3 separate regions of the Homo sapiens genome follow, and all the other regions are linked to region 1. The links come from fine-mapping of genetic effects on gene expression. A gene starts in region 1. Each other region holds a variant in brackets. All regions are shown on one strand. Distances are between the middles of the regions.

Region 1 (2,759 bases):
ACTGAGGGCCCAAAGTGGCTGAAAGACAGAGAGCCAATAGGAGGAAGTCCAGTTACAGAGGGCCAGGATTTGGGTTTTTAACCATTTAATGGTTATAAACTGAGACTAACATACTCAGATTTAGACTTTACAAAGATCAGCAAGTATAATGGATTGGAAGGATCAAGAATTAATCCCAGCCTGACCAACACAACCTCCACTTCCTCCTCCCAGCAGTTTGGAATCCTTACCTTTTGCAATAGTATACGTTCATTCATTTATTATGCATTCGATAATATTTACTGAGAGCCTACTATGTGCCAAACATTATCCTAGAGGTTAAGAGGGGACAAGAGCAAAGGGTCAGCAGTCTAGGGGTGAGATGGAGTCAAAAGGACGGCAGGTCAGCTGGAATGATGAGAACAGCAGTGGAGAGCCTTTAAAAGTGCCTTGGACTGGACCGATTACCTTCTAAATGCCGGCGCCCGGAAAAATCACTAACACCCTTTGGACTTACGTATTTCCATCTTTGTAAAATGGGAACCTACCTCGCAAGGGATGTTGCAACAATCGAAGAAAACTATGCACAATGCTTGACATCCAGTGGGTCCTCAGTAAATAGCCTAAGAAGGAAGCAAGGTTATGGTTACTTCTGGAAGAGGTGGCTTGGGGGCTGCGACAGGTGCAGCGATTGCCTGATGATAACATCTAGAAAAGCCCTTGCTGGGCAGAGGGGCAGCCGACGACCCCCGCCACTCAGCGAGTCTCCAGGTTTCCCGGAAACGCTAGCTCCAGTGACTTCTCAGATGCCCCTATGGGACCCCACCCAGGGCTGCCGCCGCCACCACCTACTGCAGCCGAAGCGGATGCACCTCGCGACTTTCCCCGCAGCCGCTGCCGGGGCCACAGCGAGGTCATGACGCCCGTGACGCATACGCAGCCAGCACGCACGCGCGCGGCGTGGCCCGCCCCCCCCTCCCACCCCGGAGGCGGGGCCGTGAGTCCCGGGCTCCGCCCCGGAGCGTCGGGCCCCTCCCCGGGCCCCGCCTCCAGCTCGCCTAGGACCGCTTGGAGCCGGCAGCTCGCCTGCCAAACCCGGCTGGGAACGCCTGGCAGCTTTTAGGAGGGGGCGGGCCCGGGGGTGGTGGCCCCAGGAGCGGTTGCCGCGGGGACCGGGCAGTGACGCGGCCCAAGGGCGGAAGTGAGAAAGTTGTCTGCGTCTCGAGGCGAGTTGGCGGAGCTGTGCGCGCGGCGGGGCGATGGGGGGCTCGGGCAGTCGCCTGTCCAAGGAGCTGCTGGCCGAGTACCAGGTGCGCGGGACGCCTGGCCCTGGGGAGCTCGCGTGCGGGCCTCTTCTCGGGAGCAGGGTCCGGGAGCTGGCTGCGGGGCGGCCGCGGCCTCCCAGCGGTCCGCTAATCCCCGCTCTGGCTTTGCCTTCCAGGACTTGACGTTCCTGACGAAGCAGGAGATCCTCCTGTAAGTGCTGCCTTGAACCCTGCCTCCGACCCCGGGATCCTCTAGAGACAGCTTCGGGGGCGCTGTCCCGAGGGAGGGGCGGGGGCTGGCCTGAGGTCTGCAGAGGAGCGGGAGCTGGAGGCCGGGAGACCTAGCCCGGGCTGCGCCCTCCTCCCGGCACGCCCTCCCCGCCCTCGCCTGAGGCCCCAGCGTGGCACCGCGGAGCCACCTTACAGCCTCCAGGAAAAGTTAGGCGCTCTTTGACCCTGGGCTCCACTAGCTTCAGCACTGCCGAACTTCCTGCCCCAGTCCGGCAGGGGCCGACCTTGCCCAGTGGCTAAACCACAGAAGCCTTGGGGAGCCCGGCTCCTTCTCCCAACTTTACCTGAATAATACAGTAACCGTTATCGCTTTCTGAGCACTCACCATGTGCCAGGGACTGTGCTAAATGGTTGCCTGCGTTACCTAATTTAATCTTTAGGAGAGAGGTACTGGACAATGAAACAGGTTCAGAAAGGTTTGGTAACTGCTTAAGACAACACTCTGAGTAAGTAGATTTGAACTTGGGCTGGAAGCCCTTTTGCCGGATTTATGCAGGCCAGGTTCCTGTGGCAAAGATAAGCTCATGGGAAGGAGGTGGAGGCCGAGGAGGACAGTTCAGTGTGGTTGCTAAAAAGGAGGCTTTGAGGGTAAGAGATCCCTGGAGTGAAGGTGAGAATGAGATTTTTGGTTTTGCTCTTTTCTCCGTTTTTTTTTTTTTGAGACAGCGTCTCGCTCTGTCGCCCAGGCTGGAGTGCTGGGGCACGATCTTGGCTCACTGCAGGCTCTGCCTCCGGGTTCAAGTGATTCTCCTGCCTCCGGGTTCAAGTGATTCTCCTGCCTCAGCCTCCTGAGTAGCTGGGATTATAGGCACCCGCCACCATGCCCGGCTAATTTTTGTATTTTTAGTAGAGAAGGGGTTCACCATGTTGCTCAGACTGGTCTCAGACGCCTGACCTCCAAAGCTCCGCCCGCCTTGGCCTCCCAAAGTGCTGGGATTACAGGTGTGAGCCACCGTGCCTGGCCAATTCTTTAGGGCCAACTTCTGGCTCCTTTCCCAACTTCTTCATCCCTTGGGGATCTCTAGAATCAGTGCCAAGCACATAGTAAATGCTCAGTAAATACTCATTGCAAGAATAGACTCCTAGGCTGTACTGCCTTGTGACATGTCCTTTTGCTTACCGTTGCCTGATGACTCGGAAGTTCTGTGTACGTGGTTTTAGCTCCTCACCTGGTTGACAATGAGCAGCAGGCAAGGAGTGGGAATGAACACACAGGGAGACCGA
Region 2 (2,759 bases), 54 kb before region 1:
ATTGTCCTCCAGAAATTCTACTTCTATAAATTCAGTCCAAAAATGCTTGCTCGAGTCCATTAAAATGTATATATAAGAAAATTTACTTCTAGGGTGACAATGATTAACTTAATATACATCCAACTATTAAAAATGATGATGCCAAGGATATATTTACTGCCATAGAAATTTACTGCCCAAAACATAGTGACAAAAGACTATATGTTATGATTCTACTTTTAAAAATGTTTATATGCATAAAAAAGTATAAAAAGCAACAAATCAGAATGTTTTGAGTGGCAAAATTAGACTTTTCTTCATATTTTGTCTTCCAAATTATTACAAAACAATGTGACTTTCTTTTTTTTTTTTTTTTTTTGAGACAGAGTCTCGGTCTGTCACCCAGGCTGGGGTGCAGTGGCGCGATCTCAGCTCACTGCAACCTCCACCTCCTGGATTCAAGCAATTCTCCTGCCTCAGCCTCCTGAGTAGCTAGGATTATAGGCATGCACCACCACGCCCGGCTAATTTTCGTATTTTTAGTAGAGACGGGGTTTCACTATAATGGACAGGCTGGTCTCGAACTCCTGACCTCATGATCCACCCACTTCGACCTTCCAAAGTGCTGGGATTACAGGCATGAGCCACCATGCCCGGCCTCTAAGAATGTGATTTTCTTTATGATCAGGGAGAAGTATTATTTTCATTTATTTATATTTAAATTTTTTTATTTTCCCTATTTTTTCTCATGTATGTATCACATGCAGTCTAGAGAGCCGGAATCCCTGCCTCTTGAGGTAAATCAGCCCATTTCTGTCTCTATAAATTTGTCTTTTCTGGACATTTCAAATCAACGGAATTATACAATATGTGGTCTCGTGTCTGGCTTTTTTACTTAGCTAATGTTTTTGAGGTTGATCCATGACACGACATGTTTTGGTAGTTTGTTCCTTTCATTACTGAGTAGAAGACCATTGATGGAAATAGCACATTTTGTCAGCAGAGAGCCTTTGAAACTTGGATTCCAACTTCCTGTGGCCTAAATGAAACCCTCAGAACACAGGACTTACAGGCGAAGCTGCCGTATATGTCAAAGTAACTACTTATCAGAACTAGCTTTGTCATCAGGAGCCTGAATTTTCATCATTTTGCAACTTAACTTTTTTTTTTTTTTTTTGATACGGAGTTT[C/T]GCTATTTTTGCCCAGGCTGGAGTGCAATGGCGCTATCTCGGCTCACTGCAACCTCTGCCTCCCAGGTTCAAGTGATTCTCCTGCCTCAGCCTCCCGAGTAGCTGGGATTACAGGCATGTGCCACCATGCCTGGCTAATTTTGTATTTTTTAAGTAGATACAGGGTTTCTCCAGGTTGGCCAGGCTGGTCTCAAACTCCCGACCTCATGTGATCCACCCACCTTGGCCTCCCAAAGTGCTGGGATTACAGGCATGAGACACTGCGCCCGGCCTGCAACTTATTTTTTACAAGCAACTTTTGTGCTACATGTCAGGACTTTGGAAGCATCTGATACATTAATTTAATAAGTATGAGCATGTGGCTGAGTGGACAAGAAAGTGAAACCATCCATGCTACATTGCATATTTTTTCCTCTCCCAGACTGGACCAGGGAATCTCCCAACTTTCTAGAGTATCCTGTCTTCATTTACAAAGCTGAACAGTATTAAAGATCCTGCTGCCTTTGTTAGGCAGATTTGGAGGGGAGGCCCAACAGCAGTGGTGGAGAGGAAAAAGAGAGTGGAGCCTGTGGAACAGGAAGCCCCCCTCCCCGCCCCCCGACACCGGGGTCCGCACAGGGCTCCCAGCTGTTGAGGATGTTGTGGATGGGGAAGTGCTGATAGTGTCACCAGGCAAGCCTAGCACCTCCAATGGGCCCAGAAGGTCTTGACTTTGGACCCTTACCCTTGTTTCACAAGTGTTTAAAAGCTGTTTTTGCTTTTGTTATTTTCCCGAATACTCATTACTTAGTAGGTAGTTATTAATCTTTCTTTGGGAGAGGGACAGGGCTTTAAAACTGAAGAACATAATTTTCATAAAAATATCAAAAATAGAAAAAAAGTTACTTTAGAAACAATTTGCTATATAAACCAAATGGCAGCTGTTGAGAATCTCAATAAAATGTTAAATGCATTTGCTGCTTTTAGAAGAAATAAAGAAAAAAAAATTAGATGAAATAAAGAAAAAAATGCATTTGCTGTCAGTGGTACCCTTTTGCCTAAGGGTGGCACTGTGTCATCATACTGTGGTGGGGGGTGTGTGTGCTGTATATGTGTGAAACTTTTCATCTCAGGATAGATCATAGTCTTAGTTGCAGTTTTCCTTCCAAATAGGGTTACAAAGTAGTAAAACATGGACTTGGAAGTGACAGACCTGAGGGAATCAGTGCAGCTTAAAAAAAAATCCAATAAAACTAACTTTTAATAATCCTTAGATTGGTTTTTGAAACAATAGATATAATTATTTACTCTAAGCATCTGGTTATGATTTTGAAACAATAATACATGCTGTCTCCGCCCTTTTTTTCTTTTCTTTTTTTTTTTTTTTTTCTTATGGAAACAGACGTTTTATCCAGAAAACCCCAGTGACTTTTTTTTTTTTTTTTTTCCAAACATGGTCTTACTCTGTTGCCCAAGCTGGAGTGGAGTGGTGGATCTCAGCTCACTGCAGCCTCAACCTCCCACCTCAGCCTCCCCAGCAGCTGCATCCACAGGCACCACTGTGCCCTGCCAATTTATTATATTTTTTGTACAGATGGGGCTTTTCCATGTT
Region 3 (2,759 bases), 21 kb before region 1:
GGCCTGGTCAAAAGGTTTCTGTGCATCAAGGCTTTCCCGGGGCCGCATGGAGCTCTTCCTGCTATCTAGTCCATGCTCTTCCTGGAGCACTCAGTCTCAGACCCTCTTTTCTTTGACCAGCTGAAACTTTCTCATTCCACTTCCATCCCTCTGAGACATTCCTAGGTCACAAGACCAGAGCTCTGAGAGCGACCCTTTTCCTCCCCCTGGTATCTCAGCATGGGAAGCCAGACCCACTCACTCTGCGGGGAGGCACCAGGTGCGGGGGAAGATGTTGTACTCAGAGGGATAGAGTTTGTACATGCGGTTGAGGTTCCGAGCCAGCAGATCTTTGCGGCAGATTTCTGTCATGCCAGGGAAGTGGTTGATTTTCTGAAACACAGCCAGTTAGTATGAGCCCCCAGAGTAAGTGGCATTTCCTAGCACCTGGGCATCCCAGGAAGCAGTGGAGGAGGATTGGGAAGGTTAAGGGAGAAGTCACAGTGGAGGTAAGCACTGCACCAAGGACCCCAAGGGCAAACATAGGAAGGTTCCTTAAGGCAGGTGAGAAAACCCTCTGTGACTCCTACCCAACACACACATCCACACTGAGCTCAGCAAATGAGGGGCAGTGAGAAGGAATGTAACTAGCCAAGACTGTGGCTTCCACAGTCCACCTTCTAACACCCCTCAGACCACCAGGCCTAGTCCTCTAACAATAACTAATGCATGATAGCACAAAGCAGACAATGAGACGAAAGCATTCCCCAAAAGACACAAAAGATAAAAGGAAACTAAGAACCAGCCCCAAGGAATGTGATGCCATGGCACCCACTGAGGGCATGGCATCACCCTGGTGCCTGCCAGAAACCCCTGGCTGCTCTGTCCTGCTGGATGGGTGGCAGCATCCGGGATGCCACCAAGTAAAGAACAAATAATGAGATAGGATGTACCCACCAGACACTTCCTTCAGGTAATTCCAGAGACCCAGGAGGAGAATCTTTCCGTTGGAAAAGAATACCCTGGGGATGGTCTTTCCTGTCTGCACAGGGGGACAGCCACAAAGAGTATGCTAAGTGCTCTCCACTGGGTTTCCCCATCACTGGCCGCACTCACTGTATGAACTTAGTATTTCTGACCCTCCATGTCCTAACCAAGGGATATCTGCTGCTCAGGGCTGTTCTTGAGGATTTAATGGGGTAATACTATAAAAGCACTTAACACGGAGTCTGTTGTACAGTAAGCCCTCAGTAAATGCTGCTGATTATTGTTATCCTTATCCTTTTTTTTTCCCCCTTCCCTGAGACAGGGTC[T/C]CCCTCTGTCGCCCAGGCTGGAGTGCAGTGGTGTGATCTCAGCTCACTGCGGCCTCTGCCTCCCAGGCTCAAGAGATCCTCCTGCCTCAGCCTCCCAAGTGGCTGGGACTAAAGCATGCACCACTACGCCTGGCTAATATTTTTTTATTTTTGTATTTTTGGTAGAGATGGGGTTTTGCCTGTTGCCCAGGCTGGTCTCAAAGTCCTGAGTTCAAGCAATCTGCCCACCTTGGCTTCCCAAAGGGATTTCAGGCACGAGAGCCACCGTCCACCGTGCCCAGCCTGCATTCCTCATTTTACAAATGCCCCTCCTTTGGAGCGTCCTTTTTTTTTTTTTTTTTTTAGATGGAGTCTCACTCTGTCACCCAGGCTGGAGTGCAATGACACAATCTTGGCTCACTGCAACCTCCGCCTCCTGGGTTCAAGTGATTCTCCTGCCTCAGCCTCCTAAATAGCTGGGATTACAAGTGTGCGCCACCATGCCTGGTTAATTTTTGTATTTTTAGTAGAGATGGGGTTTTACCCTGTTGGTCAGGCTGGTCTTGAACTCCTGACCTCATGATCCGCCCGCCTCGGCCTCCCAAAGAGTTGGGATTACAGGCGTGAGCCACTGTGCCCAGCCTTTTTTTTTTAAAAAAAAAAAAAACAGGGTCTCACTCTGTCACACAGGCTGGAGTGTAGTGGCATGATCTCTGCTCACTGCAACCTCCACCTCCTGGGTTCAAGTGAACTCCTGACCTGAATTGATCCACCTGCCTTGGCCTCCCAAAGTGGTGGGATTACAGGTGTGAGCCACCACACCCAACCTCCTCTGGAGCTTCTTGAGAACTTCTAGCACTTGCTTTCTCTCTTGGGCACCTCTCCCAAGACTAGTTGTGGGACAGGTTTTAATTTCCTCAACTTCCTGCCTGGCTTCCCCAAAGAATAAGCCTGCAGACTCTTTTAAATTATTTTATTGCTGATCACCACAAACGCCCAATTAGAGGATAATAAAAATGTCACAAGGCAGTTCTATTCTTGTGGACCCCGGTGGATCATTCCTGAATTTCTTGCCACCAGGCAGGACCCCGCAGTCTCCTAATGGATGTGGAATGCTAAACTAAGTTGCTTAGAAGGCTGGATCATTCAACTGGCCCTGCTGTTAGCTCTGAAGCTGCCTCCCAGTATTCTCCCTAAGATGTGCTCACCCACCCTGGAGAGGGCCAGCTACACACAGATGCCACCAAGCAAAGTGCAAATCATGAGATAGGATGTGCCCACCAGAAACTTCCTTTGGGTAATTCCAGAAACCCACAATCTCCAAGAGGAGATCTTTCCATTGGAAAAGAAGACCCTGGGGGTGGTCTTTCTTGTCTGCACAAGGGGACAGCCACAAAGAGTAGCAGTCTTGGGTGCCTGGGCAAGGAGGTGGGAATAGTCATTCTGGGGCCCTAGCCCCTGTCGGCTCTCAGGTCAGGAGATGGGTAC

Evidence for each region.
Region 2: its variant is fine-mapped to the expression of CIB1 in whole blood (TOPMed, PIP 0.97).
Region 3: its variant is fine-mapped to the expression of CIB1 in whole blood (INTERVAL, PIP above 0.99).

Annotation. Positions count from the first base shown.
Region 1 is chr15:90,232,365-90,235,123 of GRCh38, reverse strand. It overlaps CIB1 (calcium and integrin binding 1), which reads left to right and starts at 1,183. Exons shown (of 7, transcript NM_006384.4): 1 at 1,183-1,289; 2 at 1,421-1,455. The coding sequence starts at 1,239. It overlaps GDPGP1 (GDP-D-glucose phosphorylase 1), which reads right to left and starts at 915. Exons shown (of 4, transcript NM_001013657.3): 1 at 832-915; 2 at 528-602. RefSeq lists silencers at 781-1,220, 1,241-1,690.
Region 2 is chr15:90,286,324-90,289,082 of GRCh38, reverse strand. No RefSeq gene overlaps it. Among named protein-coding and RNA genes, the nearest start is that of NGRN, 22 kb to the right of the region's middle. RefSeq lists an enhancer at 1,355-1,919. The variant C/T (reference allele first, on the strand shown) is at 1,169.
Region 3 is chr15:90,253,368-90,256,126 of GRCh38, reverse strand. TTLL13 (tubulin tyrosine ligase like 13) reads right to left here. Exons shown (of 15, transcript NM_001396017.1): 5 at 242-372. It also overlaps a transcript of CIB1 not described here. Among named protein-coding and RNA genes, the nearest start is that of TTLL13, 5.2 kb to the right of the region's middle. The variant T/C (reference allele first, on the strand shown) is at 1,293.